Linked DNA regions of Homo sapiens. The protein of the gene in region 4 interacts with the protein of the main gene of each other region in a pairwise test. Each region holds a gene or a part of one and is shown on either strand. Other genes may lie near its edges. The genes, in order: RHEX, PLIN3, GNB4 and SH3GLB1.

Region 1 (7,416 bases), about 120 Mb from region 4:
TAGAATAAACTGAGTCCAATACCTCTACACAGTTATGTTTAACTGGGCTCTCTGACACCGGGAGGAAGGTGGCGGGGTTTAGGTGTTGCAAACTTCAATGGTTATGCGGGGATGTTCACAGAGCAAGCTTTGGTATCTAGCTAGTCTAGCATTCATTAGCTAATGGTGTCCTTTGGTATTTATTAAAATCACCACAGCATAGGGGGACTTTATGTTTAGGTTTTGTCTAAGAGTTAGCTTATCTGCTTCTTGTGCTAACAGGGCTATTGCTACCAGGGACTTTGGACATGGGGGCCAGCGTTTGGAAACCTCATCTAGTTGTTTTGAGAGATAGGCCACTGGCCTTGGCCAGGGCCCTACAGTCTGGGTTAAAACTCCAACTGCCACTTTTTCTCTTTCTGACACATAGAGTGTAAAAGGTTTTGTCAGGTCAGGTAGCCCCAGGGCTGGGGCCGACATGGGTTTTTTCTTTTTTTCAACTCATGAAAAGCTCATTGCTGTTGGGTGTAATAGATGCAGTTTATCTAATCTACATTTTTATTGACTGTCATCTACCAAAATATTGACTTAAATCCTGTAGCTATTTGATTTCGGACTTTAAATTGATCTGGTGTTCCTTGCGGGGCTTCGATTGCATCTAAATAGATGTGAGAGTTGAAAGACCCATAAGGGGCTTCTCTCGCTTTACGATGTCTTATTATTTTTTTTTTCCTTCCTCTGGTTGATGAAATGCCAGGGTGAAAGGGATAGCCAAATAGGCTAAAGCACAAGTGCCACTCTAGTTATTCGGCAGAGTGCCCAATAAAGGTCCACGACAATACCATCACACATCCGCTCGGGGATGAACAAGGGCTGACTGACTGATAAGCTCTTGAAAATTCTTAAGCTCACTGCATCCCTTCAGGTCTCCAAGGAATGCTAAGTCTCCTCCCTGCCATGAGAGACATGAAGTGAACTTAGTGTTGGGAGACGGAAGCTGGACGGCCCTCAGGGGCTGACCCGCAGGGACTTTGGGATATAGCAGAGAGAGCTTGGCATGACTTATTACTCCAAGCTGTAGAAACCTGGAAAATAGCTACCCTGCAGCCCATGCCTGGTCAACTGGAGGACCACCTTAGTGGAAGGGGGACAATCAGGGCCTCTGGCCTGCCATGTGCACAAGCATAACAATTGCATTTGTTTAAAGTGCAGATGGAATATTTGATCCATTTCAGCCAGGCACTTGCATCTTGGCGTGCTGTCTTAATTGCCAAAGTTTGTTTTAAGTCTTTAACTTTTATGATCCTCTAGTAAAATGAATGTTTCCTTTAGCACCAATTTTTATTAGTTTTTAGACCAAAGAAAGCTAAACACCATTTTATATTTAATAATGTTTCTTGTATGATTTTTATACCAGATAAGCTAAATTTTACCTTTATATTAGTGTGTTATTAATTTTAAACTGAATTTTAATAAAACCTTGTAGACATATTTATCCAATTTTTCATGTTTGACCATAAGGTAAGATTTTATAGACTCTTTTTAACCTTTTATAATTTTTGTTAAAGAGCAGGTTGATGCTTTAAGAAAAACCTGTGGCATTTTTTACTTTAATGTCCAGTTCACAGAAAAACTGGATGATACCTTTTTAACTTTAGCTAATATGTTTACACACAGAATTTTCTTTATAATTAACGTTTTAAAACTTGCTTAAACTTTTAAAACAATAATTGTTTTTAACCTTTTAATGTAGGTAAAAATCCACATTCTTATGCCCCTTTATAATCTTTTTACCAAAGGTATGTTTTACTTTTCTTATACACCTTGCACATAAACTGTTTTTTTAATAGTACTCAGGAGGCCTTATTACTTTTAAATTATACAACATTTTTTGCATAAATTTTTTTATAACATTTTTTCTTTCACGACTTTTGCCGACAATTCTTCAATGTGTCTCAACTTTCTGACTTATTACAAACATTTTTTTTCTTTAAACACCAGTTAGTTTATTTCAGGACAAGAATTTACCATATAACACTCTTTTTACATAAATTCTGTCTCCCCCCACTTTTTTTTTTTTTTGAAGATAACCATTCCTTTTTTTTTTTTTTAAAGCAAACTTTCTTTATGCCTTTGGACTAGACTGTCTAAGGCCACAAGATTAGAAGTTACCATAATACATGTTACACTGTTAACTTTAAGCAAACTTCACTTTTGTTGAAAACCTTGTAAGTTTGGGATTTCAATTATCCTTTGCTATTAAGACCTTGTTTAGTCTAAATTAACTTAGAATTGGTATAGATGGCCTTTTTTTCTCTCTACTGGTCTTTCCTTGCCTCTGCCAGCCGCTTATGCTGCTGTTCTCTTAACTACGTTGGCGGGGCAAGGGGGTATAAAAGCAGCTGTAACTTTCTATGTATGGAAACTGGTCTGGGTGCCTTGGCTTACGGGTTACCTTGTGTCATACCTTTGAAACAAGGGACCTGTCCAGGCTTCCTTCTGATGGCCAACCCACCTCTAATGCTGGCCAGTCTATTTCACACAAAGTTCTAAGTTTTCCTGGTGTCACAGTAACACTGTAATCTCCCTTAAATTCTTTCTTGAATTTTTTTTTAACATAGTTCCTAGTGGGGTGGGCTTATTTGTACCTGACCCATGCTTCTTCGAGACAAAACACCACACCCACACCACACACATGCCACAAACAAAAAAACAGGTAAAAAGGGCATACACACTCTTGCAGTTTACACCAAACCAAAATCAAAACCAAAATCAGAGTATCCAGAAATCCAAGCCAGGTCAAAACCAAAACCAAAACCAAAGTATCACACAATCTAAGTCAAGTCAAAACCAGAACAGAAGTGCCAATGCAGGCATGTCGTGGGTGATCAGGCCACACTTCCACCTAGATGGAGTGGGGCAAGTTCCAAAGACTAGTCTTACCAAGTTTCAGATGTCCGGACTCCAAGTGCCAGTTCCTTCCCGGTGTTCAGCCACTGTGTTAATCCTCCACAGGGAACTGCTACACGCTGCTCTGGTGAGGCATTCCACCGGGGCAATTTCCTACCCGGGAGTGCTCTTTGGATCGCGTCACTCGGGCTGGCCGGAGTCCGCCTCAGGGATGCTCCACAGGGGAGGCCTAAGCCGCCTAAGGGGCTGCCTCGGCTGTCCATCAGTTACCTCGTTTCCTGGTCAGGGAACCAAGAAATGTAGCAGGACGAGCCGCAGACAAAACCCCTCAGACACCAAATTGTAGAAGGAAGGGCTTTATTCAGCTGGGAGCATCAGCAGGCTACTGCCTTAAAATCCGAGCTCCCCGAATGCACAATTTCCGTCCCTTTTAAGGGCTCACAATACTAAAGATTTCACATGAAAGGGTCATGATTGATTTGAGCAAGCAGGCGGTATGTGACAGGGGCTGCATGCACCGGTGGTCAGAGAGAAACAGAACAGGGCAGGGAGTTTCACAATGTTCTTCTATACAATGTCTGGAATCTATGAATAACATCAGTTTCTAAGTTATGAGTTGATTTTTAACTACTGGGTTTAGGCCAGGCAGGCCCAGGCCTGGTTTCGGGCCTGGCGCCGGACTGCCTGTCTTTGGTTTTACTTCCTTGTTGTTTTTCCTTAAAACAGGTACTGAGTATAAAACAATATAAAACAATATGAGAGGGTCTCTCTCTTCCCTCACAGTGACCTGGGTCTCAGACACTTCCTAACTGTGATCTTAGGACAAACACTTAGCTTTTCTGAGCCTCATCTGTGAAACAGACAGAATATGAATGCCTACCTCATGGAGTTGTTTAAGAACTCAGTGATCAGACTATTATTCAACAGTAATAACGAGCCAGGCCCAGTGGCTCACGCCTATAATCTCAGCACTTTGGGAAGTCAAGGCAGGAGGACCGCCTGAGCTCAAGAGTTTGAGACCAGCCTGGGCAATATAGCTAGACCTTGTCTCTACTTTAAAAAAAAAAAATCCGAAAATTAGCTGGGTGTGCTACTGCATGCCTGTAGTCCCAGCTCCTTGAGAGGCTGAGATAGGAGAATCACTTAAGCTAGGGAAGTCGAGGCTGCAGTGAGCCATGATCACACCATTGTACTCTAGCCTGGGTGACAGAGCAAGACCCTGTCACAAAAACAAACAAAGAAACAGAAGACAGGAATAACCACCATTTGTATTGTTCTAGTTTTCAGTTGGTCTTACCTGAGCAGAGTAATTGGGTGAGATTGTTCATGGAGGCATTGCTGGCTCTCTAGTCCTGGAACCTACAGTTGGTCCAATTCATTATGCCAAAGGGTCCGTCTAGGAGGTTCTTGTTCCAAGTATTGAGATTCCCGAGAGAAGTAGGTCCCCTTAGATAGAAGCAGAGTTTCTCAGAGGTATTTAGCAGCAGCTGGTGGACACAGGACTCAGGGAGCTGGCCCCCCTCTTCCCTTCCATGTCTTTCATTCCTGCATGGGAACCTGTCAGATGGGGAGATTGTTAAAATCTCACCACTGGAGGGGAGGGCCTCAAAGGCCATGGAGACAGCACCTCTCTCTTAGTGAAGGCATCTTCAGATAGAATTCAGCACAAATTCAAAGGTGGCTCCCCAGACCCTATCTGTCACATCGCCCTCTCATCTATTAGTATCTGAAGTCACCTTGATCATTTATTTGTTTACTTGATTATTGTCAGCCTCTCATCACATGAATGTGAGCTTCATAAGAACAGAGACCTTATCTGTTTTGGCCAACATTTCACCCCCAGTGTCTAGAAAGTGCCTCATGCAATGAATAGGTCCAATACATATTTCTTCAATAAATGAATGAATGAATGAATGCCAAAGACTCCTTCATAAAAGCCAGGGTCAACTGACCTCTGCCAGAATTTTGGAGAGCCTACACCACAGACTTTTGAACCTCTTAGCTGATGACAAATCTTTAGCCTTCGAAGCGGAAATTGATTTGAAAGAGCCCAAAGTACTCCGGTAAAGTAGGTGATGTTGAACTGGGTAATGTCAATTTCAGAAAAAGAGGACACGTGCCTGTGAAACACCAAGAGCAGTGTCCTGGGGTTGGGGAGGACACCTGCCTGGGTGTGGGTGGCCAAGGGGAAGAAGGAAGAGAAAGAGCAGGGGAAGATGCTGTCCCACAGCCACCACCACAGGTGTTCACCGGCCTCAGGCGCCAGCCCTGCTCAGGGTGAGAGGCGAAGAGGGAGGTGTGCTTAAGGCCAAATGAAAGAGGATCTGCCACCCTCTCCTCCCCCAACTCTTACCACATTCTAGCAAAGAGAGCTGCAGGAGCAGTCAGGAAATCCCCTAACAAGGCAAGCATTGGAACCAAGAGCCCAGGTGGCACGGATGAGTCACTTCACTTACTTGGACTCAGTTCCCCTATTTGTGAAATGAAGCAAGGATGAGAAGAGGAACAAGACGTGATCAAGAAAAAGGCAAATGTTTTCACAAGTGCCTGTCATTGCCCCCTTCTGTTGTCCCCTTCCACATGTCACCTGGTACATTGTACATTTCTTCTAACAATTGTGTTATTGGCCAGGAAATACAGAGAATTCTTTTAGAGAATAGGTTTTCTAAGTGTTAAAATTGTTTTTATTTTTAATTTTGTAAGGGGAGGACATCATCACCTTTTCAGTTTGGGACTTTTGAAGTGTTTGTTTCATTAGGTCACATTCAGATGGTTTTAGAATTCAAAAGGTACAAAAGGATAGTCCTGGAAAAGCTGCTCATCTGCTCTTGACCCCAGCCATCTAGTTCTCCTCCCTGGAGGAAACCAGCATGCCCAGTTTATTGTGTACGTTATGTGTACATGAGCAAACACACAGACACACAGAAACACACTCACCATACAGGCGTCTTCCTTACACATGACAGTGTACTACATACTTTGTTTTGCCTTTTGCTTTTTCACTTAATATATCTAGGAGTTAATTTATTATTAATACATACAGAACTTTCTCATTCCTTTCTTCCTCTTCAGAGTGTTCCGTTCTATGGTTGCTCACAGTTTATTTAACTGGTCATCTAGTAGTAAATTTAGATTGTTTCCACTTTTTACACTTGAAATGATGATGTAATTATTAAACTGCAACAAACATCATTTGCACAGGTGTAAATATGTGTGTAAAATTAGAGAAATGGCCATTAAAGTAGATCTGCCATCCCAGTTTTAGGAAGTCAGTATTCCTTTTTACAAATCCAAAATACAGTGTTACCCAATTTGACTACTCATATTATAATCCAGATTTCACTCTGGCTGTTTCCAAAAATCAAAGCACTCCTCAGAGAACAAAGATATGACATCACTGAGGATATTCAACAGAACTACCAATTTCTCTAAAGGCCGACCTCCAAGGAGAATCCAAACGCCTTCAGCAATAACAGCATCACTAGAGTGAGTATAGCATGTCCCTGGATGCTGATGATGGAGCGATAAACCCTCATGACACAGACATTTCCAAACAATTCAGGCAAAGTTTACTGAGTGCCAACTACATAGTCTGTTTAAAGCCCAGTCTGTCCTATTACACTGGTCTTTCAGTTTAAATAAATAAATAAATAAATATAAATAAATAAATAACCCAGTCTGTAAGGATGAATAGAAAAAGGCCTTGTCATCAAGAAACCAATGATCTAGGGAGCAGTTCTCAAAGTGTAGTCCAGGGACCCCCTGGGGGTTCCAGAGATCTTTTCAGAGGGTTCATGAGGTCAAAACCACTCTCTTAATAATACTAAGATACTAGTTGCCTTTTTCACTCTCAGTTTCTCTCAAGCATACAGTGGAGTTTCCCAAAGTCTATGTGACATGTGGTATGGCATGAGACTGAGTGCAAAGGCAGACCTGAGAACTCAGCTGTCTTTTATTGAGCTAGGTATGAATAATGAGATTTGCACATGCATAAAACAGTGCTTCTCTTTTCATTAAATTCTTCATGCTTTGGGAAATAGTTATATTTCATAAAAAGTGTTATGTTTAAGATGTAATGGCTTTGGTACTATTTTCTAAGGGGATTAGATAAATATTTTTAAATTTTCTTAGTTTTAATTTCTGATATGGTCAATATGAATAGATATAAACTACATAAACAATAGCGTTTTGGGTTCCTTAGTACTTTTTGAGAGTGTACAGGGGTCTGGAGGCCAAAGAGTTTGAGAATTGCTGATCTAAGGACCCATGGCATTTCTTCACCATAGGGCAAGAGAGGAGCATTTTGCCTTATCTGCCAAGAGTGTGCTATGCTACATCCAGGGGTGCAAGCCAAAAGATTCAGGAGGAACAGATTGGGTGTTCTCAAATAGCGATGTGTCAAGAGGACAGCAATTGCTTGGACACAAGAATTCCCCCCGGAGCCTGCTGGCTGGCAGTGCAGCGGCTGTGTAGAAAGGCTCTACCAGAGGGGCAAAGTCCAGGCATGAGGCAACAAGGAGGCTCTGA
Region 2 (7,024 bases), on a different chromosome or scaffold from region 4:
GGTCAGCATTGCCATTCTGTAGAAAAGAAAGTGGGACCCAGGCTGGGCCTGGTGGCTCATGTCTGTAATCCCAACACTTTGGGAGGCCAAGGCAGGTGGATCACCTGAGGTCGGGAGCTCGAGACCAGCCTGACCAACATGGTAAAACCCCATCTCTACTAAAAATACAAAAATTGGCCAGGTGTGGTGGCACATGTCTGTAATCCCAGCCACTCGGGAGGCTGAGGCGGGAGAATCGCTTGAACCTGGGAGGTGGAGGTTGCAGTGAGCTGAAACTGCACCAGTGCACTCCAGCCTGGGCAACAAGAGCGAAACTCCATCTTAAAAAAAAAAAGAGGGGGCCGGGCACAGTGGCTCATGCCTGTAATCCCAGCACTTTGGGAGGCCGAGGCGGGAGGATCACGAGGTCAAGAGATTGAGACCATCCTGGCCAACTTGGTGAAACCCCGTCTCTACTAAAAATACAAAAATTAGCTAGGCGTGGTGGCAGACGTCTGCAACCCCAGCTACTCAGCAGCCTGAGGCAGGAGAATCGCTGGAACCCGGAGGTGGAGGTTGCAGTGAGCCGAGATTGCACCACTGCACACCAGCCTGGCAACAGAGCAAGACCCCGTCTCAAAAAAAAAAAAAAAAAAAAAAAAGTGAGGCCCACAGAGGCAAAGTAACTTGTGTGAGGGCCACCCAGCTGCTGAGGGGCAGGACACAGTTTGGAACATGGTGTTTTTTTTGTTTTGTTGTTTTTGAGACAGAGTCTCGCTCTGTCGCCCAGGCTGGAGTGTAGTGGCGCGATCTCAGCTCACTGCAACCTCCGTCTCCTGGGTTCAAGTGATTCTCTTGCCTCAGCCTCCCGAGTAACTAGGACTACAGGCACACGCCACCACGCCAAGCTAATTTTTTTTTTTGTAGTTTTAGTAGAGATGGGGTTTCACTGTGTTTGCCAGGATGGTCTCGATCTCCTGACCTTGTGATCCGCCCACCTCAGCCTCCCAAAGTACTGGGATTACAGGCATGAGCCACCGCGCCTGGCCAGAATATGGTGTTTTTTTGGTTTTTTTTTTTTTTTTTGAGATGGAGTTTCACTCTTGCTGCCCAGGCTAGAGTGCAATGGCATGATCTCGGATCACTGCAACCTCCGCCTCCAGGGTTCAAGAAATTCTCCTGCCTCAGCCTCCCGAGTAGCTGGGATTACAGGCACCCGCTACCACACCCAGATAAATTTTGTATTTTTAGTAGAGACGGGGTTTCTCCATGTTGGTCAGGCTGGTCTCAAACTCCCAACCTCAGGTGATCCTCCCGCCTTGGCCTCCCAAAGTGCTGGGATTACAGGCATGAGCCACCGCGCCCGGCCAGGAACATGGTGTTTTGATGTTTTGACTTTCCTGCCGCCAACCTTTTCTGACTAATAAGTTATGGAGGTGGCAACATTCTGTGTAAAGGGCCACGTAACTAAGATTTTCAGTACTGTGGGTCACAGTCTCTGTCACAACTACTCAACCTTGCCATTGTAGGGTGAAAGCAGTCATAGACAATATGTAAATAAATGGGCATGGCTGTGTGCCAATAAAACTTTATTATAAAAACAAGTGGGCTGGGCACCGTGGCTCATTCCTATAATCCCAGCACTTTGAGAGGCTGAGGCAGCTGGATCACCTGAGGTCAGGAGTTCGAGACCAGCCCGGCCAACATGGTGAAACCCCATCTCTACTAAAAATACAAAAACTAGATGGGCATGGTTGCAGGCGCCTGTAATCTGGCTGGCTTTGCAATTATTCCTCCAGCTACCCTGTGGGGAGTGGATTCGGGGTGGGGATGGGAACCGACAGGAGAGGCAGCAGGGAGGATGCCATCAAGCTTGTCTAGTTAAGCTGGGACCAGCGCACTCCACACCCAGGTAGGTCCCTGTCTCGACAGAGCCCCTGAGGACGGACATCGTTACCTTCTCCGTGGGCTGCTGCAGGATGGGGAGGTTCTCCTCCAACTTGTCCAGCCCCCTGTGGGCGTATTCGCTGGCTGATGCAACTGCCAACAACAATTAAGACGCAAATGTGACTGCTGGAAGGTCACCTAGTAATGGTTCAGGGGGACAGGACCAAGAGCTGGGTAGACCCCCCTACTCCCCACCCAGGGAAATGACCAGGAGGGGAATTCAGTGCCCCCTGGGACTTCACCCACTCTGGGGCTCCAGCTTGGAGAGGATCGGCTGAGCCCCGCTGACAGCAGCCGCCGTGAGGGTCCTCACTCCCTTCTCTGCTGCGTCGCAGACAGTCTTGATGTGCGGGTAGCTCTCCTTGGTGGAGGCATAGGCTGCGGACACCATGTCGCAGGTGGAGCTGATCAGAGGCATGCTGGCCACACGGTCCACCACACTGGGCTACAGGAGAGAAGTGGCTCAGGCAAACTGGGTGGGGGAAGATGGGGAGCTCAGCCGGAAACTCAGGGTGCCCTGCAGTTTTGCTCTTACTCCTGGCCAGTGAAACGGCTCAGTTTACCCACACTTTGCATCCAGGCAGTTGCACAAGCCAGGAACCTTGGGGTTTCGCCACGTGCTTCCTTTATTTTTATTTTATTTTTGAAACGGAGTCTTGCACTGTTGCCCGGGCTGGAGTGCACTGATGCGATCTCAGCTCACTGCAACCTCCACCTCCCAGGTTCAAACGATTCTCCTGCCTCATCCTCCTGAGTAGCTGGGATTACGGGTGCCACCACGCCCAGCTAATTTTTTTGTATTTTTAGTAGAGATGGGGTTTCACCATGTTGGCCAGGCTGGTCTTGAACTCCTGACCTCGTGATTCGCCCACCTCAGCCTCCCAAAGTGCTGGGATTACAGGCGTGAGCCACCGCACTCAGCCCACGTGCTTCCTTGAACACAGGCTATTTACATGAGCCTGCACTTTATCCCAGCGATGTGCCAGGTGGTGATAAGGGACAACAGTTCCATTCTCATGGCAGTTAGGGTCTAAACCGGGGGCTGTAGACCACAGCCCATGGGTCACAGCCAGCGCACCACTTGATTTTTAAATTTTAATTATTTTTGGGGCCAGGAGCAGTGGCTCACGCCTGTAATCCGAGCACTTTGGGAGACCGAGGCGGGTGGGTCACTTTGGGTCAGGAGTTTGAGACTAGCCTGGCCAACATGGTGAAACTCCGTCTCTACTAAAAATACAAAAATTAGCCGGGCGTGGTGGCACATGCCTGTTACCCCAGCTACTTGGGAGGCTGAGGCAGGAGAATTGCTTGAACCCAGGAGGCAGAGGTTGCAGTGAGCCAAGATGTCACCACTGCACTCCAGGCTGGGCGACACAGCAAGGTTCCATCTCAAAAATATATACATAAAATAAAATCACCTGAGGATGAGAGATCTGGAATAGAAACTGGCCTCCTAGGACGTCCCTGAGAGAGCCTTCAGAGGTGAGGATGATTTGGCTCAGGGGTTGGGGAGGGCAGGTAGTTTCAGACAGAACCCTGCTCCCTCAGGCCCTCCAAGGGCCTTTGAGATTCCCCCCTCCCAACTGGGGACACCAGTGAGTGGTCCATACCCCACTGAGGAATAAATCCCTCTGGCTCCGTGAGCTGCCGGCAGATCCCTGGCTCCCTGCCAGGGCACCCTGGGGTGGGAAGCCTCCTTGCACGGGAATCACAGGGTCGGGGCAGTCCCTGGTCCCGGCCCTTCCTCACCTGCTGTACCGGTTCTTCCACTGTCACCTGGGTGCTGCCATCAGCCTCTGCCCCGTCGGCAGACATGGTCTCTGCAGCAGACGCTGAGGAGAGAGGAACAGTCAGGTACAGCCTGCCTGGCCCCACCTTCCAGGAGAAAGTCCAGGCCCACGCTGCAGCTGGAAGACAGGGTTCACACCTGCCCATGACTTACAGCTGTGTCTTTCAGTCCTTAGCAGGCACAAGAGTGACCTCTGGACTTTGTTCAATAGCAAGTGCTGATTCTAAAGCTTCGGGATGGGGCTCACCTGGCCCCCTATTTCTTTTTTTTTTTCTTTATTTTCTTTGGAGACAGTCTCACTCTGTCGCCCAGGATGGAGTGCAGTGGGGCAACCTGGGCTCACTGCAACCTCCGCCTCCTGGTTTCAAGCAATTCTCCTGCCTTAGCCTCCCGAGTAGCTGGATTACAGGCACCCACCACCACGCCCAGCTAATTTTTGTATTTTTAGTAGAGACGGGGTTTCACCATATTGGCCTGGCTAGTCTTGAACTCCTGACCTTGTGTTCCACCCACCTTGGCCTCCCAAAGTGCTGGGATTACAGGTGTGAGCCACCACACCTGATCCTTTCTTTTTTTTTTTTCTCATTAAAGACAGGGTCTTGCTCTGTCACCCAGGCTGGAGTACAGTGGTACAATCACAGCTCACTGCAGCCTCTAACTCCTGGGCTTAAGGGATCCTCCTGCCTCAGCTTCCCAAGTAACTAGGACTATAGGCACACACCACCACGCCTACTTAATTTTTTCTTTTTGGGTAGAGATGTTATCTTTTTTTTTTTTTTTTGAGACAGAGTCTTGCTCTGTCGCCAGGCTGGAGTGCAGTGGCACGATCTCGGCTCACTGTAACCTCCACCTCCCACGTTCAAGCAATTCCCCTGCCTCAGCCTTCCCAGTAGCTGGGACTACAGGCGTGTGCCACTACACCTGGCCAATTTTTTGTATTTTTTTAGTAGAAACGGGTTTTCACCATGTTGGCCAGGATGGTCTTGATCTCCTGACCTCGTGATCCGCCCGCCTCGGCCTCCCAAAGTGCTGGGATTATAGGTGTGAGCCATTGTGCCTGGCCAATGGTATCTTGCTATGTTGCCCAGGCTGGTCTCGAATTCCTGGTCTCAAACAATCCTCTTGCCTTGGACTCCCAAAGTTCTGGGATTACAGGAGTGAGCCACCATGCCCGGCCCTGACCCTGCATTTCTAAAAGGCTCCCAGGCAGTGTTGATGCAGCTGGTCCCTGGGACACACGTCAGGAAGCAAGGCTTGGGAACAGTCCCTTCAGGGCTCACCTGTACTCCAGCAAGCCAGGTATGACCTAAAACCTCTGTAGAGGACAATTTGCCAATAGCTGTCAAGTTCCAAGAGCCATCTTCCCCTTGACCCAGAAACCTCACTTCGGGGAAGAACCCACACCTGTGTTTCCACATGAGCAGAGCTGTGTGGACTTACTGGCCACAACATGACACTGGAAACAACCTGGATGCCCAGCAAAAGGGGAATAAGAAAACAACAAGTGTGGCCAGACACAGTGGCTCACGCCTGTAATCCCAGCACTTTGGGAGGCCGAGGTGGGTGGAACACGAGGTCAGGAGTTCGAGTCCAGCCTGGCCAACATAGTGAAACCCCGTCTCTACTAAAAATACAAACATTAGCCAGGCATGATGGTGGGCGCCTGTAATCCCAGCTACTCAGGAGGCTGAGGCAGGAGAATCGCTTGAACCCAGGAGGCGGAGGTTGCAGTGAGGTGAGATCGCGCCACTGCACTCCAGCCTGGGCAACAGAGTGAGACTCCGTCTCAAAACACAAAAACAAAAATAAGTGTATCCCAATGCAGTGGCTAAAGAATGAGATTTAAAGGCCGGGTGCGGTGGCTCACGCCTGTAATCCCAGCACTTTGGGAGGCCAAGGCGGGTGGATCACCTGAGGTCAGGAGTTCGAGACCAGCCTGACCAACATGGAGAAACCCCATCTCTACTAAAAATATAAAATTAGCCAGGCATGGTGGCGAATGCCTGTAATCCCAGCTATTCAGGAGGCTGAGGCAGGAGAGTTACTTGAACCCGGGAAGCGGAAGTTGCAGTGAGCCGAGATCGCGCCGCTGCACTCCAGCCTGGGCAACAGGAGCGAAACTCTGTCTCAAAAAAAAAAAAAAAAGAGATTTAAATGTAACTCACATGGGCCAGATGTGGTGGGTCACACCTCTAATCCCAGCACTTTGGGAGGCCGAGGCAGGAGGATCACCTGAGGTCAGGAGGTGGAGACCAGCCTGGCCAACATGGCAAAACCCCGTCTCTACTAAAAATACAAAAATTAGCCAGGCGTGGTGGTGCACGCCTCCATGTTTAGTTATCCCAGCTACTCAGGAGGCTGAGGCAGGAGAATCGCTTGAACCCAGGAGGTGGAGGTTGCAGTGACCTGGTATTGCACCACTGCACTCCAGCCTGGGTGACAGAGCGAGACTCCATCTCAAAAAAAAAAAAAAGAAAACAAAACAAAACAAACAAAAGACTAAATGTAACTGACATGACATGAACAAAGATCTAGTCAAGGGATAAAATGTGTTAAATAGGGCAAACTTTCTTCTCTTTCTTGAGACGGATTTCCGCTCTGTCGCCCAGGCTGCAGTGTAGTGGTGCGATCTTGGCTCACTGCAACCTCTGTCTCCTACGCTCAAGCAATTCTCCCACCTTGACCCTGCAAGTAGCTGGGACTACAGGCACGCACCACCACACCTGGCTAGTGTGTGTGTGTGTGTGTGTGTGTGTGTGTGTGTGTGTGTGTGTGTGTGTGTGGTTTTGTTTTTTTTTTTTGGACAGGGAGTCTTGCTCTGTCATCCAGGCTGGGGTGCAGTGGCGTGATTTCGGCTCACTGTAACCTCCGCCTTCTGGGTTCAAGCGATTCTCCTGCCTCAGCCTCCTGAGTAGCTGGGATTACAGGTGTGCACCACGTCTGGCTAATTTTTTGTATTTTTAGTAGAGATGGGGTTTCACTATGTTGGTCAGGCTGGTCTTGAACACCTGACCTCGTGATCCACCCGCCTCAGCCTCCCAAAGTGCTGGGATTACAGGATGAGTCACTGCACTCAGCCGTGGTTTGTTTTTTTTTTTGTTGTTGTTGTTGTTTTGTTTGTTTGTTTTTTAGTAGATGGGGTTTTGCCATGTTGCCCAGGTTGGTCTTGAACTCCTGAGCTCAAGGGATCTGCCCACCTTGGCCTCCCAAACTGCTAGGATTACAGCTGTGAGCCACCGCACCCAGCCAAAATTTAGGCTTTTTTTAAAAAGTGAGATAACATGCCTGCCTGCACCGCAGAGCTATGAA
Region 3 (7,667 bases), on a different chromosome or scaffold from region 4:
TTGGTTTTTTTTTTTTTCTTCTGGGAGTTTATATTATTCACATAAATACACGGTTTGTTGTTGCTGTTTGTATTGTTTTGGAGTCCCACTCTCCACATCTTGTTAATTTTATTTTTGAACATAAAAAAGACTAACAGTTTCCAAAACTCAAAACTATGCAAAAAAGTACATTCAGAACAAGGCCATTCCTTCTGTTGTTCCCATTTACTCAGTTCCTACCCGGTGCCTGTAGGTAACTAATTAGTTTCTGGTTCTCACTCCTGTATTTATTTTTTGTTCTGTCAAAAAACTACGCTTCCTCAAGGTGAGGTAGAGAAATGAGGCAGGGCCAGACGCCGTGGCTCACGCCTGTAATCCTAACACTTTGGGAGGCTGAGGTGGGTGGACTGCTTGAGCCCAAGAGTTCAAGACCAGCCTGGGCAACACAGCGAGATCCCGCTTCTATTTATAAAAATAAATAAATAAAAAGAAATGAGGCAGTCACTGAAGCAGAACACTGGATCAAGAAACCATTTTATTTTAAAATGGCAGACTGTACAATAATGTAAATGATTCTGTAGTAACTGACAAATTGAAGGTGCAGGAGAGAGTATGATAAATTGCAGAGGGAAATATCCATCAAAATATCCTCTAGTTTAATTTGAGGGATATCAAAGGGTTCTCATATCCCAAAATTGACCGCAATCCTGTTTGTAACCTTCCAAATTAGTTATAACTCTATCTCTAGAGAACCCACATTAAAATGGAGTTACTGTTTTATCAAGATAATTAAGCCATCACTACCTATTAATATCAATAGGATACACTGTGCCCTGGCAAAAGGGAGGTTTTGAACTTGGAACAAGACATTTAACTAGGAGTAGAGTGGTGAGAAGAGAATGGCTGATGTGAGAAGCTGTATAAAAACATGGGACAGACAATAATGATCATGCTGGAAAAACAAACATGCTTCTGGCATGTCTTGGATATTTTACACACATGCTAATGAGTAATTGAGGGTCACTCCTCATGCCCTCGAACTAAGTTAATATGGCTCAGGGGAAAGAACATGGACTTTGGAAACAGAGGGGTCTTGCTTCGAATCCCAGTTGAGTTACCTAACACCTACATGACCACTGCCAAGTTACTTAAAACCTCACAGACAATTTCCTTACCTGTGGAAGTAGATAATGGTGTTACTGTGAGATATAAGTAGAATAACTTACAGCACTGCCCCAGCCCAGAAGAGATATTTTAATAAATAAGTCCATAACAGACGCAGATTAAAATAGTCAGCAAGGTAAAGAAACTGATGATACAGCCAGCTGACTTCAATAACATGCCTAAGAGAAATCACACCATCTCAGGCAGTATTTGGTAAGGCCAGAAGAATGTCCAACACTTAGTTCCAATTCTTAATTTTCAAATTGCCCCAGAGTCTATTTTTAAAGTGTAAAAGTATGTGCTGACATACTTACATGCCAATTGTTTAAAAGAAACAATTCTACAGGTTAACAAAGGCCAAAGACTCGGAATAACTTCCTAAATAATGTTTATGGGCCCACAAAGAGTTGAACCAACCTAAAATATCACAAGCTGTATCAATCAGTTTTATAAATGTATATACAGAGGGTTGACAACGTTCAATAAGATGATATTTTAAAAGTTTCTATTTCAGTTTCAAATTCATCTACAAACCAAAATGCAACATGGAAAATCTTAAAATGTCTTTAAGCCACATACTGAAATATACAGTAAATTTTCAGAGCCTAGGATCAGTAGTAAACCAAAAGCCCCAAACTGAAGAGTATTAAAATGAACAATGGCAGAGACTCGAAGCACACAATTTTGAATGCACCTAATCAGCCGTCCTCCTCTCCGACTAGAAATAACTTCCCTCCCATCTTAAATTAAGTAGCGTGTGTTCTGTCTCTGTCCTAGAAGATGTACTTAATGGTCATAAACTCTGTTTGCAACACTGAGACGGACTCATAATAAAAGTTCTAATCAACAATTAAATTTTGAACGTTTTAAGAAAACTTCCCGCTAAGCCACACGCCAAGCTACTTTGTCGGTGGCTGAGAGGGAGAAAGATGCATCCTTATCCTTTATGGAAAGAGAAAGGGAAGGAGTGGGAGAAAAGGGAACACAAGGAGACGAAAAATAACAAAGTATTGCTTGTATAAACAAATGAAAGCCTGGTTTCAAACTTTTGAAAATTCAACGTTCCCTTAGCGAATAGCAATACATATCAAAGTATATGGCAATCATCTGTGTTCTGAAGCAGAAAAAGGTGGAGAGAAAAGCAAAACACTTTTTATTGTACTGAACTCACAAGTATTCAAAATTCATCAATCCCCTCCCATCCCCAAACTCTGGACATTATATCATTTCCAAAATAAATCTGAAACAAAACCATTGGACTAATTTTGGACTCAGCGTAGAACTTTTATGAGTCTTCCAAGCACTCTCCACCCAACAGCCCTGCTGGGCAGTCCCGAATACCCGTTATTTTGGGGGCACGCACGGGCTCGTGCTCTGAGTTCCTGGAAGGAGGCCTCGGGGAGTGACGAGAAACCAGGGGGGTCTGCAGGACTTGGACCGCCGACCGTTCCTCGCTCCCCGGGGCGAGCGGTCTGGACCGCCCGGGAAGTGCCTGCGCCGGCGGTCGTGGGGCCAGTTCCCGCGTGGCAGCTGGGCGCGACACAGGCGCGCCCTCCTCGTCCCTCCCGGGCAGCGTCGGCCGCCCGAGCCCGGGGAGACCCGCCCCGCCCCGCGCCGTCACCCGGGCCCCGTTCCGCAGGGGTGGCTCGCGGCGCCCCACGTCCCTGCGAGAAGCCCGGGATCGCTTCGCGGGGCGCACCGACGAGCCGCCGCTCGCGAGCTCGCCGCCTACCTGGAGGGAGCTCAGGCCCGCGTCGACCGCGCGCTGCCGGTGTCCGCTGGGCGCTCAGCAGCCCCTGGAGCGCGGAGCCGGCGTGGAGAGCGCAGCTCACAGCCGAGACCAGAGCCGCCGGCCACACCCAGTCCCGCACCTCCCAGCAGCCAACTCCGCGGCGCGCCGGAGCCGGGGCGGGGACGTGGCTGGAGGCGCGAGGCGCGAGGCACGAGGCGCGCGGGCCCGGCGGGGACGTGCCGGGGACGCGCAGACCCTCGGAGCGCGCGCAGCCCGGGCGGGGGGCGAAGGGAGCGGGCGCCGCGCGCAGCTTCTGCTTCCTATTTTCTCTCTCGTTTCCTGCCAGAAGGAGAAGAAAAACATTCATTCCCGGGCAGTTTCGTTTTCTTGTTGGTGTGGCGCCGGGGCACGCTGCTAAGTAGCGCCCGTCTAAGTGGCGTGGCCAGTTTCCTTTCCGGCGCTGACAGGCGCCAGTTTGCTTGTTAGCAGGATCGAAGGGCAGAGCTAGAAGACCCCAAAGGCCCCATTTAGGTTTCCCATTCTGGAATTCTAAATGTCAGAAAGTAAACTGAAGCCCAGAGTTGCACAACCTTGCGTTGCAGTCCCCGCTCTTCCATCACTAGTTGTAGGACCGTGTACCGTCTCGGGCCTAAGTTTCGTCATCGCCAAAATAAAGATACTGATACCTGCCTCATAAAGGTGCTAAGCATATTAAATGAAGTGATGTTTGCACGAAGCCTGCCTCCAAATAAATGGCCAATACTTGGAAGTTATTGTTCCTATTGTCATTGATAAAACTGGAAGGCCTTCCAGATATCCCTGCCAAGTCGCTCTTCTCTGCATGAGTTAAACACCACATGCATCTCAATCGAGTTTTTTTTTTTTTCACATTTATCTGGGTGTTTTATGTTTAAAATGTCATAAAATAAATGCATCTATCCAATTTGCTTCCTCTGAAGTCAGTACCGCCTGGGAGCATTTTTCCTCTCCCCACCCCCATTTTTCTTCTGAGTTAATTCCAGTTTGACAGACTGTTGCTATAGCATTCCTTCTCTGACGTCAAACAATTTAAAGAAACAGCCCTGGGTAGCGAAAACTGCAGAGGAGTTCTTTGTGGAGTTTCTGTGCCGGAGAAATGTTCGAACAATATCATCAGATAACTTTAACAACCCCTCAGCCTTCCAATCCTCCTTCTGTAGCTGCTTCCCACTATCACCTGGAATAAATCTATTAGTCCCTTGAAAGAGGTGATGCCATGATAAACACACCCTGTTTGTGACTGTGGGGAAAATGTGACCGTTTTGTATAAAAGCCAGGCCGTGACAAAAATAGAAGCAGCTGTTTCTATTTTCTTTATCCACAGATAAAGAAACTGTGGATAATTTTTCCCCCAAAATTTTCATTTTTACTAATATTAGGAGCATTTTTCCATTAAGAAGAAAGAAATGCCAAATATTCTGCATATCAAAGTGTCAGAAGAGCTCGTTGGGACATGAGTGTTTTGCATCTGTAACTATTTATGTTTTAATGATTAAATCCTGAGTTTTATGATTGTCGTTTTTCGGAGGAAGCAAAGGGAAATTGTTAAAGAGTGCCTATTACGGACCATGCTCTCTGCTTTCTTATACTGTACTTAATCCTCATAATTACCTTGAAGTGTGAATTTTATCCCCATTTTACAGATAAGCAAACTGATGCCCTGGTAAGATTAATTTATCGGAGTCACGAAGGTATTGGTAGAGCCCTGCATGACATCAGATTGGATCAACTCCAAAGCCCACATTCTTTCTTTTTTTTGTTTGTTTTTTTGTTTTGAGACGGAGTCACTGTGCAGTGATGTGATGTCAGCTCACTGCAACCTCCACCTCCAGGATTCAAGCGATTCTCGTGTCTCAGCCTCCCAAGTCTGGGATTACAGGCACAAGCCACCACGCCCGGCTGATTTTTTGTATTTTTAGTAGACACGGGGTTTCACCGTGTTGACCAGGCTGGTCTCAATCTGCTGACCTCAGGTGATCCGCCCACCTCGGCCTCCCAAAGTGCTGGAATTACAGGCGTGAGCCACCGATCCCGGCCCCATATTCTTTCTTTAGATTCTTTTCTGCCTTGTTCCTGTGCACTAGCATTTACCAGATGTTATAAAGCTTTGAGAGCTGGTTGTTGGGTTAAGATTATTTGTTGAAAAACAAGTTGCTGGTATTTAGGAAAACACAGTGGGAAGCAATGAGATAGTCTATTCCAGAAAAGATGAGGGGAAATATAAATGAACAGCTCCTAAACATAAAATACAAAACCTGAAAAGATGTAACAAGAATTTGACTGTCTTTTAAAGAGTTTAAAAGAATGATATCGTCAATCTTCCTGAAAATTTAATGTAGACAAAGAAATTACTAGAAGAATAAAGTCCAAGTACAGAAAAAGGAAAGTTTAATTATTATCCAAACGAATCTACTTCCAAGAATATTGTATTTCTGTTTTGCCATACCTGCTCCATATTGTTCTGGAAAAAAAAAAAAAAACTTACTTGTTAAAGGACAAGCCTATACTGAAAATCTGAAAGTGGAGCTGATTAAAAGAATTTTGTCATCAGGAATGATTTCATAAGAGCACACTAATGCATCTAAGTGATCCAGCAATTCATGATTTTTCCAATGATAATGAAATCCACGAAGAACAAAAGAGAGAGACTGGGAAGGGAGGCAGAGAGAAAGGTGAAGGGGTATGCTATTAACATTTCTGATGCCTGCTGGTTTGTGTAGACAATTGTAGAGATGTATCCTACTTCTGAGGATTAAGCCCCATGATCTTTTGTTTGGGTGCCACTGGCTGATAATTAGATTTCTAACTCATTAGGCCCATGTTCTCAAATCCTACTCTATTAAGAGAGCATAGTGGGGTCCCTACTAGAGAACCTTTGAAGACAAAATCCTTGTCCGTTTCATCTTTGTGTCTGCCATAGTGTTTAACAGAGCACCTTGCATTTGCTAGGTACTCCACGAACAAATAAATGAGTGAATGCACTTGGCTGCTTGTTTTATGCAAATAACCTGCATACCTCACCCCATCCCACACGCTAGTCAGAATCATAGGAGAGGAGAAAGTGGTCATTGCTTTTCTAGGAGTTTAGTTACAGTTTCTTTTGCAGGGTGTTTTGCTTCACTATGATCAAGTTCAGAGAAGCTCTGCTCTTGGTCCTACATTGGATGAATCTGAATGCTGTACTCAGTGAGCTACCCTGTAATCCATAGTGCCATAGGTTTGTATATCCTGCTTTTAAGTTTTACCCTAGAAATGGTCTATATTTTTTTCTGAGCCTACCTTGCTCTCAGACGATGCCAAGCACACCGTGAAGAACACAGCTATTAAAGTGTACAATATTTCAGTACCGCCCTGTATGTGTTGTATGCATTCCAATTCTATTGTGTTTGAAATGAGGCCAAATTATATACATACAACATCACAACTACCGTAACAGATTTTATTTCACCCACAACAAAATAAGTTATAAAATATTAAATGGAAATTATCTAACAGGATCTACAGCACAGTTTCCCAAGGACATGAGAAGCAATTCCCTAGTAGATTCTGTAAGAAGTCAGTCTATGTGTGGTTTCAGACAGACATCCTTGATACAGAGTAGTCATGCCTAAAGCCTTCCCTCTTGCTCACACACAATGCATTTTCCATATCAAAGTACAGTTTGTACTTTGAGTCACCTTTGCTGTACTCCTCTGACACTGGTGGTACAAATCAGTTATAGCTTTTGTTTATTTCCACTCAGGTTCTCGTTAACCATGGGAATTTGGAATCTGTCATCCAAGTGCATCCCAGTGACCTTAAGAGAGGGTCAATGATATCTGTCACAGGCATGGGAGAGGGAACTAGAAGCATGCAGGCATATATCTGCTGCTCTATGTCCTGTCATTCAGGTCCCTGGAATCAGGGAATTCAGGGAAATCAGGGAATTCAGGTCCCCGGAAAGGGACATGTCAAAGTGAAAAAACACTAAACTGCACATCAGAAGACTTGATTTAGAGCTTTGGCTCTGGTATTAAATGTCTGTGTGATCTTAAGCAGATCTTACCCTGCCAGCATTCTGTCTTAATTATATAAAATGAAGGTGCTGAATTCTAATACGATTGACAAATAGACAACACTGGTGCCATCTCTCAGACTATGTCCGGGGATGACTTCACTAATCAATCGTGGACTCTTGCCCTGTAAGCTTCATTTCATCCCAAGAACTCTTCTGAACACCACATTTTCAAAAGGAACTCTGATCTGTTTCTGTTAAGTGAGTAAAAACATGAGTTTAAAAATGAGATGACATATTAGTTATCTATTGCTCTATTCAAGTCACCAAACTTAGTGGATTAGGACAACAACAATTATTTAATTTGTTCATGAATTTCCAACATGGGCAGGGCTTGGCAGACGTGTTCTCTGTTCCATGCTGGCTCAGATAGTTTGACTCTTATTAAGATGGCACTCTCACATGGCTGGCAAGTTGGTGCTGGCTGCTAGCTGGAAGATCAGCCAGGTGTGTGGGCAGAAACTTCAGTTCCTTTTCACGTAGGGCTTTCCACGGGCTACTTGGAATTCCTTGCATTAGAGTGGCTGGGTTCTAAGAGCAAGTGTTCCAAGAGAACAAGGAGGAAATGCATAGCATTTTTATGACTTAGCCTCAGCAATCACATAGTGTTGCTTCCACTATCCTCACTTGGTCTAGGCAGTCACAAATTCATGTAATAGGGACATAGACTTTTTTTTTTTTTTTTTTTTTTTAGACAAG
Region 4 (7,024 bases):
ACACCTTAAGCTGAAGGATCCTCTAGAATTCTATTCTTAGACTTCTGGTTACAATCTCCACTGAGGCTCCTGTTTAGGGGCTAGAAATAACAGCTTAAATAGCTTTTGTAAAGCCTTGGGTCTTTTTGAGAATGGTCTATAGCCAGCCCCTGACCTAGTGGGTAGAACCAAAAATAGCAGTTACAAAGCTATTGCCTAAGCCCATAAACTTGCAGTGTAGCTGGAGGACTGGGCACTGAGCAAAAGCAAACCCTGATCCCAAGGCCAGCTGGATAAACTATGCAACCTCATTCTTAACAGAGAACCCCGTAGTCTTTACAGATCCCTGAAGATTCTAAGCAACAGACCTCCTACTAGACTTTTACATGTTCAAAGTCTACCACCAATGGCTAGATAAAATAACTCCCAGATAAAGTGACCAATAGGAAGGGAAGAAAGGGAATACCTTTCACTCAGGTGAACATCACCTATAAAGAGTGATCTAAAAAAAATTCACTTAGCCCCTTAAAAATTGAAACTGCATGCATAAATTTCCCTTTAATAAGCAAGTTTATCCATTTGTTTGTTCATTTTGTTTATTCCTTCAACAAATACTTATTAAGCACCTACATATGTGCTAGGCACTCTTCTAAACACATGGGTTTCAGCAGCCAACAAAACATATAAGGTTTCTGTTCTTAGGAAGCTTACATTTTAATGGCAAAGACAGACAATAGATAAATAAATAATCTGATAATAAGGATATAAAGATATGAAGATGGTAAAGCGGACCAACATGGTTGGTTTGTTTCTGAGTGACATACAAATCCAAGTACAGAGAAAGAATTCATTCTTCAGGGAGAGGAAGAGGGAGAGCAGGAGAATCAGGGAAGGCTTCAGTGGGGGAGGGATGGGCAACTTGGGCCTAGAAAGGGGAGCAGGAGTTTGAGGAGTGTGAGATGCGGGTAGTTAGAGAAACAGCATCTCTGAGTAGGTAACAAACGACCTGTGACTGAATGATATGAACTATGTTAAGATCTAAGGAAAGAGTGTATAGTCCTGATGATTTATCTTCCAGTTGCACAATTTCTTTAAGCTCATTAGCATCACCCTCACACATATTAAATATTAATTTCTCTGTGGAAATCCTTAACTTATAGTTAATAACCAAGAATAGATTAATAGAAAAATCAACAGATCAATAATTCAAAATCAGTACTTATGGCCAGGAGCAGGGGCCCCCGCCTGTAATGTCAGCACTTTGGGAGGCTGAGGCAGGCAGATCACTTGAGCTCAGGAGTTCTAGACCAGCCTAGGCAACATGGCGAAACCACGTCTCTACAAAAAAATCCAAAAAATTAGCCAGGTATGGTGGTGCACACCTGTAGTCCCAGCTGCACTCCACTGCACTCCATTCTGGGTGACACAGCAAGACCCTATCTCTAATTAATAAGTTAATAATAAAATAAATAAATATAAAATAAAATAGTCACTGAATTTATCTGATACAAACTGGGGTTCAGGGCAAGTTTTCTCCCGACAGTATTTCAGGAAAATCAGCAATTAGAAAGTTAATTATTTGGAAAATAAAACACTTCAATCTTCAGGTAAAAAGGCCTGTTTGCTTAATTATTTAACATTTTCTTTGTGACTCTCATGATACTACCTCCCAGGTATCTCAATAAATATATATTCTTTTTGAAAAGAGTATGAAAGTATAACAGAGCAAAGATGGGTATTTGCACCAAGTGATTTATTTGTATGAGTCTGAGGAAGAAAGAAAATATGTTAACTGATAAAGATTCTACAAACACACACAATTAGTAGGTTTTTTTTTTTTAACTATTTTAGTTCAGAAGATACATGGAACCCTTACACATGAGTGAGACAGTCTAATTACAGAAAACCTGTTTAGAAAATAGCAGTACTGTAGGGTCACATGACAATGTTTCTATGTTTCACATTTCAGCACATCCATTTACATCTTTCTCATACTTCTGTGTCAAGGCTTAGTGTATGTTCAAAAATTCCATTAACTAAGCTGTGCATTCTACAACAAATACTCGAAAGAATCTTAAAATAAAGTAAGAATAATTGTAGAGATTAATAAATTGAGACTCAGGGTGATTAAACACTTTGTCCAAGGTGTCATTGTTGGGATTCAATCTCACATCTGTTTGAGTCATAGTCTTATCATGCTATACTACCCTTCCAGTAAATACTTGCTGATTTCCAAAATTAGTATTTTCTATTTCTATTACTATTATCCAATCATATTCTGTGCTTCCTTTCTCCTATGTCTGTTCGCAGCACTCTGGACAGCTTTCTCCCCCAGATCACTTCTGCTTTCTACAAGATATTCAATAATTATTCACCAAAATTAGTAAACTAAATCCTATCATGAATGAATAAAAGGGAGGAAGACACACAATAAGGACATTGCTAATGCTATCATATTTTAAAATTGAAATTATAAATTTAAATCTTATTACTTAAATATATAATTGTAAAAGACATAATATTTCCCAAATTTTATCATTGGTGGAAGCAAAAGGATTTTTCCATAATTAATCAGAAGTACACTTTATTAAGATAACAAATACAATATTTAATACATTTTCTCTAAAGCACTGTAAATAATGCGTCTACTACAGACACTAGGAGTCATCTCAACTAAATTAATATTTAAATTACTAATCAAAAATATTTATGGCTTCTACAGCAAGATGATCAGCATCTGATGTACTTCTTGCCCTCAAGGATTTTATGATCTACTAGGAGAATACTGCCTTGACTCAAACAAAATTATAATAATGGCACCTTTTCAGAAGGGCAAAAGACCTATTAATTCTTTCTTTTAAAAAAAGATCCCTTTCCTAGTTACCAAAAAATTTTAAATTAACCCATAAAAATTTTAGTTTTCAACATCTTCAAGTCAAAAATCATTACTGATTTTGTAATCTCTTGATAATAGGTATTAATGAGAAACTAGTTGATTTTAAGCATATCTTTTAATGAATAGATGGCAGTATAGTTTAATAATTAAGAACTTTTGTGTAAACAACCTAAAATAAAAGGCAAACTGTAAATAAGCATCTTCTTAGTAAGTCATTAAACTCAATGTTTTCTAAAATATAATTTGATACCTAATTTTTTCATATTTCATTTGTAATATGGCAAAGTGGCATAAGAATAAAAGTTTAATCCCCTTTTATATATTTTCTCTAAATATTGCTTTGCGGAAAGAATTGTCTTTGAGTCGGCTACATTATACCAGGCACTGTAATCCTTCTTTTACTACAGGATAGGCATATAACCCACATTATTAAATAAGGAGCCTGGATTCCAAACTCTACTTTTAGAAAAAAAAAAGACTACAAATAAAATGGGTGTGTGATCAAAGACATCTATTTAATGCAAACTCTAATCACCAGTATTACTAAAGGGTAATACTCTAAAAGTAATTTAAATTTCTTGGAAAATATGTAACACAGATTCTGAATAATGTATTAGTAAACTGTAAGGTGCATCTTTCTCCATTGGTTCCCAATTTTGGCTGTTCTTTAGAATTACTTGAGGGAGCTTTAGAAAACACTGATGTCTGGTCTGATCCAACCCCTAAGATTCTAATTTAATTGGACTGGGGTGTAGCTCATATATTGGCATTTATAAAGATTCCCCAAGCATTTTAAGTGCAGCCAAGACTGAGAACCACTGTTCTAAACTCATTCATAACTATTTAAATATGTATCGCTTGGTTTAGTGCATGCTGCATTACTTTACTTTCCTCTTTGGCCCATTTAGGAATTTCAGCTGTTATTACTGTTACTTCACTGTGCTGGAGTTTTGCTTCAAATATATTAACTGTGTTGAGGTTCTTTCAGTAAGCTGGTCTCCAAAGAATATTAAAGTAATTGACTTAGGTGTTTGATCATTTTAAATATAGTAGCAAAGCAACTAGGAGTACATCAGTTGGGTGTGGTTAAGAGTTTAGGATTAATTTGTAGCTCTGTCATTACCTTAAAAATACTTTCAAGAAAGGCCAGGCACGGTGGCTCATGCCTGTAATCCCAGCACTTTGGGAGGCTGAGGCGGGTGGATCACCTGAGATCAGGAGTTCGAGACTAGCCTGGCCAACATGGTGAAACCCCGTCTCTACTAAAAATACAAAATTTAGCCGGGCACGGTGGCGCGTGTCTGTAATCCCAGCTACTAGAGGGGCTGAGGAAGGAGGATAGCTTGAACCTGGGAAACGGAGATTGCGGTGAGCCAAGATCGTGCCACTGCACTCCAGCCTGGGCAACAGGGCGAGACTCCGTCTCAAAAAAAAAAAAAAAATTCTTTCAAGAAATATGATGAATTTAAAAGAGTTTTATAGATTTTCTAATTACCTTACTCATGTAGTACATAAGTGTAAATTTTAACATCAGGTTAACAAACTATCTTCTATCTATTTTACTAAAGTAATGCAAATAGCACCAAAGGATGTGAAAACAGTTTTAAGTAACACTAAACATGTAGAGTTTTTATATAACAAGAAAATGTATGGATTTCGAATGTGACATATTTTATTTATTAGAATTTAAGAAACATGGTGAAGTTGTCACGGTGTGAATTCTGTAAAAGAAATAGGATTTCAGAAGTGCTTGAGAGAGTTGTTTGGCCAAACTGAAACTCCAGGGAGGGTCTGACAGGAGCTATTGAACGGCAACATCATATTCATCTTTACATCCTTAGACACACCATGACACTTGCTGAAATAAATGGGAGATCAAGGCCAAGCTCAAAACTATATTTTAAGAACTATATTCCTTAGAAAATAGCTGGTGTTCACGAATTTCATAGTATGACTTTAATAATCAGTTTAGAGGAAATGTTAGAAAATTAAAATGAACTCCCTCCCTAAGTAATTTGATTTGAAAAATTCTTTTTAGAAAGTCTTTGCTCTTATTTTAATGATGGTGAGCAAGGTTTTGCTTCAATAAGAATTCTGAGTTAAAAACACATCTCTTGTTCCTTTATCCACTTGAAAGATTTATCAAATAAAGTTATTCACAAAATGGCTATTTAGTACAAATAAGATTTATGACAAGTTTGAGACTATTATTATGAAGTCTCTGAGGGCAGGAACAGGGTCTCATTCAGCTTTGTATCTTTCAACGCCAAGCACCTAGGAGGTACTCAATTTATACTGGTATTAGTTAACTTCAAGGTCCGCAAACAATGTTAGAAAATACTAATAAAGATACTGTTATTTAACATGCTTATTGTTGCCCTTCAAAGATTAAACTTCACATATGGATGGTAATTTGCCTGGCTAAAATGATATAAAAGATGAACCATGTTAGATGTTGTAAGAGGGGAATAAGAAACAGAGTTGATGCCTTAGCACATACAAACTTATTAAAGAAAGTCAGAGTAACAGAACTTTAGAGTTCCAAGAGATCTAACATAACAGTTCATTAGAAGAAAAGTGCCACCTCATCATTTGGAATTGAAAATGATTCACGATTTCACAGCAAGCTCTTGTGGTCTAAGAAGCCTTATCAGCTGAGATGGATTTGAAGCTATATCTTTAAAAAAAGTTTATTTTACTTTTATTTTAAAATTTTTTTTACTCTCTCCATTTTGGAGATGAATAAAGTTGTATCTTAAGGAAAGGAAAGAATAGGCAGACAGGACACTTAAGAGGAGTCTAACCATATGAACAAAAGCCTAAAATAAGTAGAAGATATTTTGGAAATTAAAAAATAATTTGGAATACAGTGTTTATATAAGTGAGAGAAAGGACCAGATTGTAAGGGAGTATTTAATGCTCAACTAAGAAGTTTGGACTAAAAAGATGGATTCTAAGAATAAATGGCATTTAAAACTCTAGTAAAATAACAATTAAGCAAGGGTGAATTACCTGATACTTTTGTATTTTACCATCTTGAGGTACTTAAAAACAAGCACCCAAATGGGCTAGTTAAGAATAAACATTCCTACTCATTTATACATTCTAGTCTAACATTCTTTTTAAAGTACCAAGGCTTATAAACAAATTTTAAAAGGAGGGAAGTGGAGTGGTGATGGGACGCATCTATGTGCTTTACTAGTTTGAGCTGACCTTTTTTTAAAACAAGAAACATGTTTAATTTTTAACTTAGAAATTTTTAAGTAAAATGGAAAACAATGTATGGCGTTGGCCAACCAAAGAATGGCATATTCCTTACGGTACAATTTGATTTGAATGAAAATTATTATTTATAAACGTGAATGTTTCTCTCTCTACTGTTCTTACTGCTTATAAAGAGATATTGGCATAGCTCTTAAGCTATTCTTAGCATGAAACTTGGTACTTTGGCATTATACTGATGTCAATGCAATTTAATGTAGGAACTCAGTGATGAAATAAATACTGAGATGAGAAAGCAGTGTTTTGTTGAAAACTACCACACAGCATTCCAAATTTCACATGTTCTATTTTAGAAGCATCCTTTTTTTCTTACAAATTTTATCTTTAAAAAAGTATTATGGAAAATGTCAAACATACAAAAGTATAACAGTATAATGAAACCTCATGAACCCATAACCAACCTTCCACAACTATCAACATTCCGTTGCTGTTGTTTCAGCGACTTCTGTTTTTTTCTTTTGAAATATTCAAACGCTAATCTCAACTGGTGTGGTGGCTCACACCTGTAATCCCAGCACTTTGGGAGGCCGAAGCAGGTGGATCCTGAGGTCAGGAGTTCAAGACCAGCCTGACCAACATGGTGAAACCCCATCTCTACTAAAAATGCAAAATTAGCTGGGCGTGGTGGAGCCTGCCTGTAATTCCAGTTACTTGAAAGACGGAGGCAGGAGATTGGCTTGAATCGGGGAGGCGAAGGTTGCAATGAGCTGAGATCGCGCCATTGCACTCCAGCCTGGGCAACAAGAGCCAAACTCCATCTCAAAAAAAAAAAAAAAAAAAAATACCCTGTAAAAACCAAATCTCAGATATGATATAAGTTTATCCATAAACATTTCAGTATGTATCTCTAACAATTACAGACACATT

The links.
Region 1: the proteins of SH3GLB1 (region 4) and RHEX interact in binary tests that used the Homo sapiens proteins (3 or more experiments, as listed by UniProt).
Region 2: the proteins of SH3GLB1 (region 4) and PLIN3 interact in binary tests that used the Homo sapiens proteins (3 or more experiments, as listed by UniProt).
Region 3: the proteins of SH3GLB1 (region 4) and GNB4 interact in binary tests that used the Homo sapiens proteins (3 or more experiments, as listed by UniProt).

The regions. Positions count from the first base shown.
Region 1 is NC_000001.11:206,048,772-206,056,187, reverse strand, and holds the start of RHEX (regulator of hemoglobinization and erythroid cell expansion protein), read right to left. Parts: upstream 3,016-7,416; 5' UTR 2,923-3,015; intron 2,746-2,922; exon of another isoform or gene 1-2,745. UniProt on the Homo sapiens protein: Acts as a signaling transduction factor of the EPO-EPOR signaling pathway promoting erythroid cell differentiation.
Region 2 is NC_000019.10:4,857,654-4,864,677, forward strand, and holds part of PLIN3 (perilipin-3), read right to left. Parts: intron 3,759-7,024; 5' UTR 3,742-3,758; coding exon 3,676-3,741; intron 2,372-3,675; coding exon 2,173-2,371; intron 2,020-2,172; coding exon 1,937-2,019; intron 1-1,936. UniProt on the Homo sapiens protein: Structural component of lipid droplets, which is required for the formation and maintenance of lipid storage droplets. Required for the transport of mannose 6-phosphate receptors (MPR) from endosomes to the trans-Golgi network.
Region 3 is NC_000003.12:179,448,471-179,456,137, forward strand, and holds the start of GNB4 (guanine nucleotide-binding protein subunit beta-4), read right to left. Parts: upstream 3,001-7,667; 5' UTR 2,876-3,000; intron 2,745-2,875; exon of another isoform or gene 2,507-2,744; intron 1-2,506. UniProt on the Homo sapiens protein: Guanine nucleotide-binding proteins (G proteins) are involved as a modulator or transducer in various transmembrane signaling systems.
Region 4 is NC_000001.11:86,707,560-86,714,583, reverse strand, and holds part of SH3GLB1 (endophilin-B1), read right to left. Parts: intron 1-7,024. UniProt on the Homo sapiens protein: May be required for normal outer mitochondrial membrane dynamics. Required for coatomer-mediated retrograde transport in certain cells. May recruit other proteins to membranes with high curvature. May promote membrane fusion.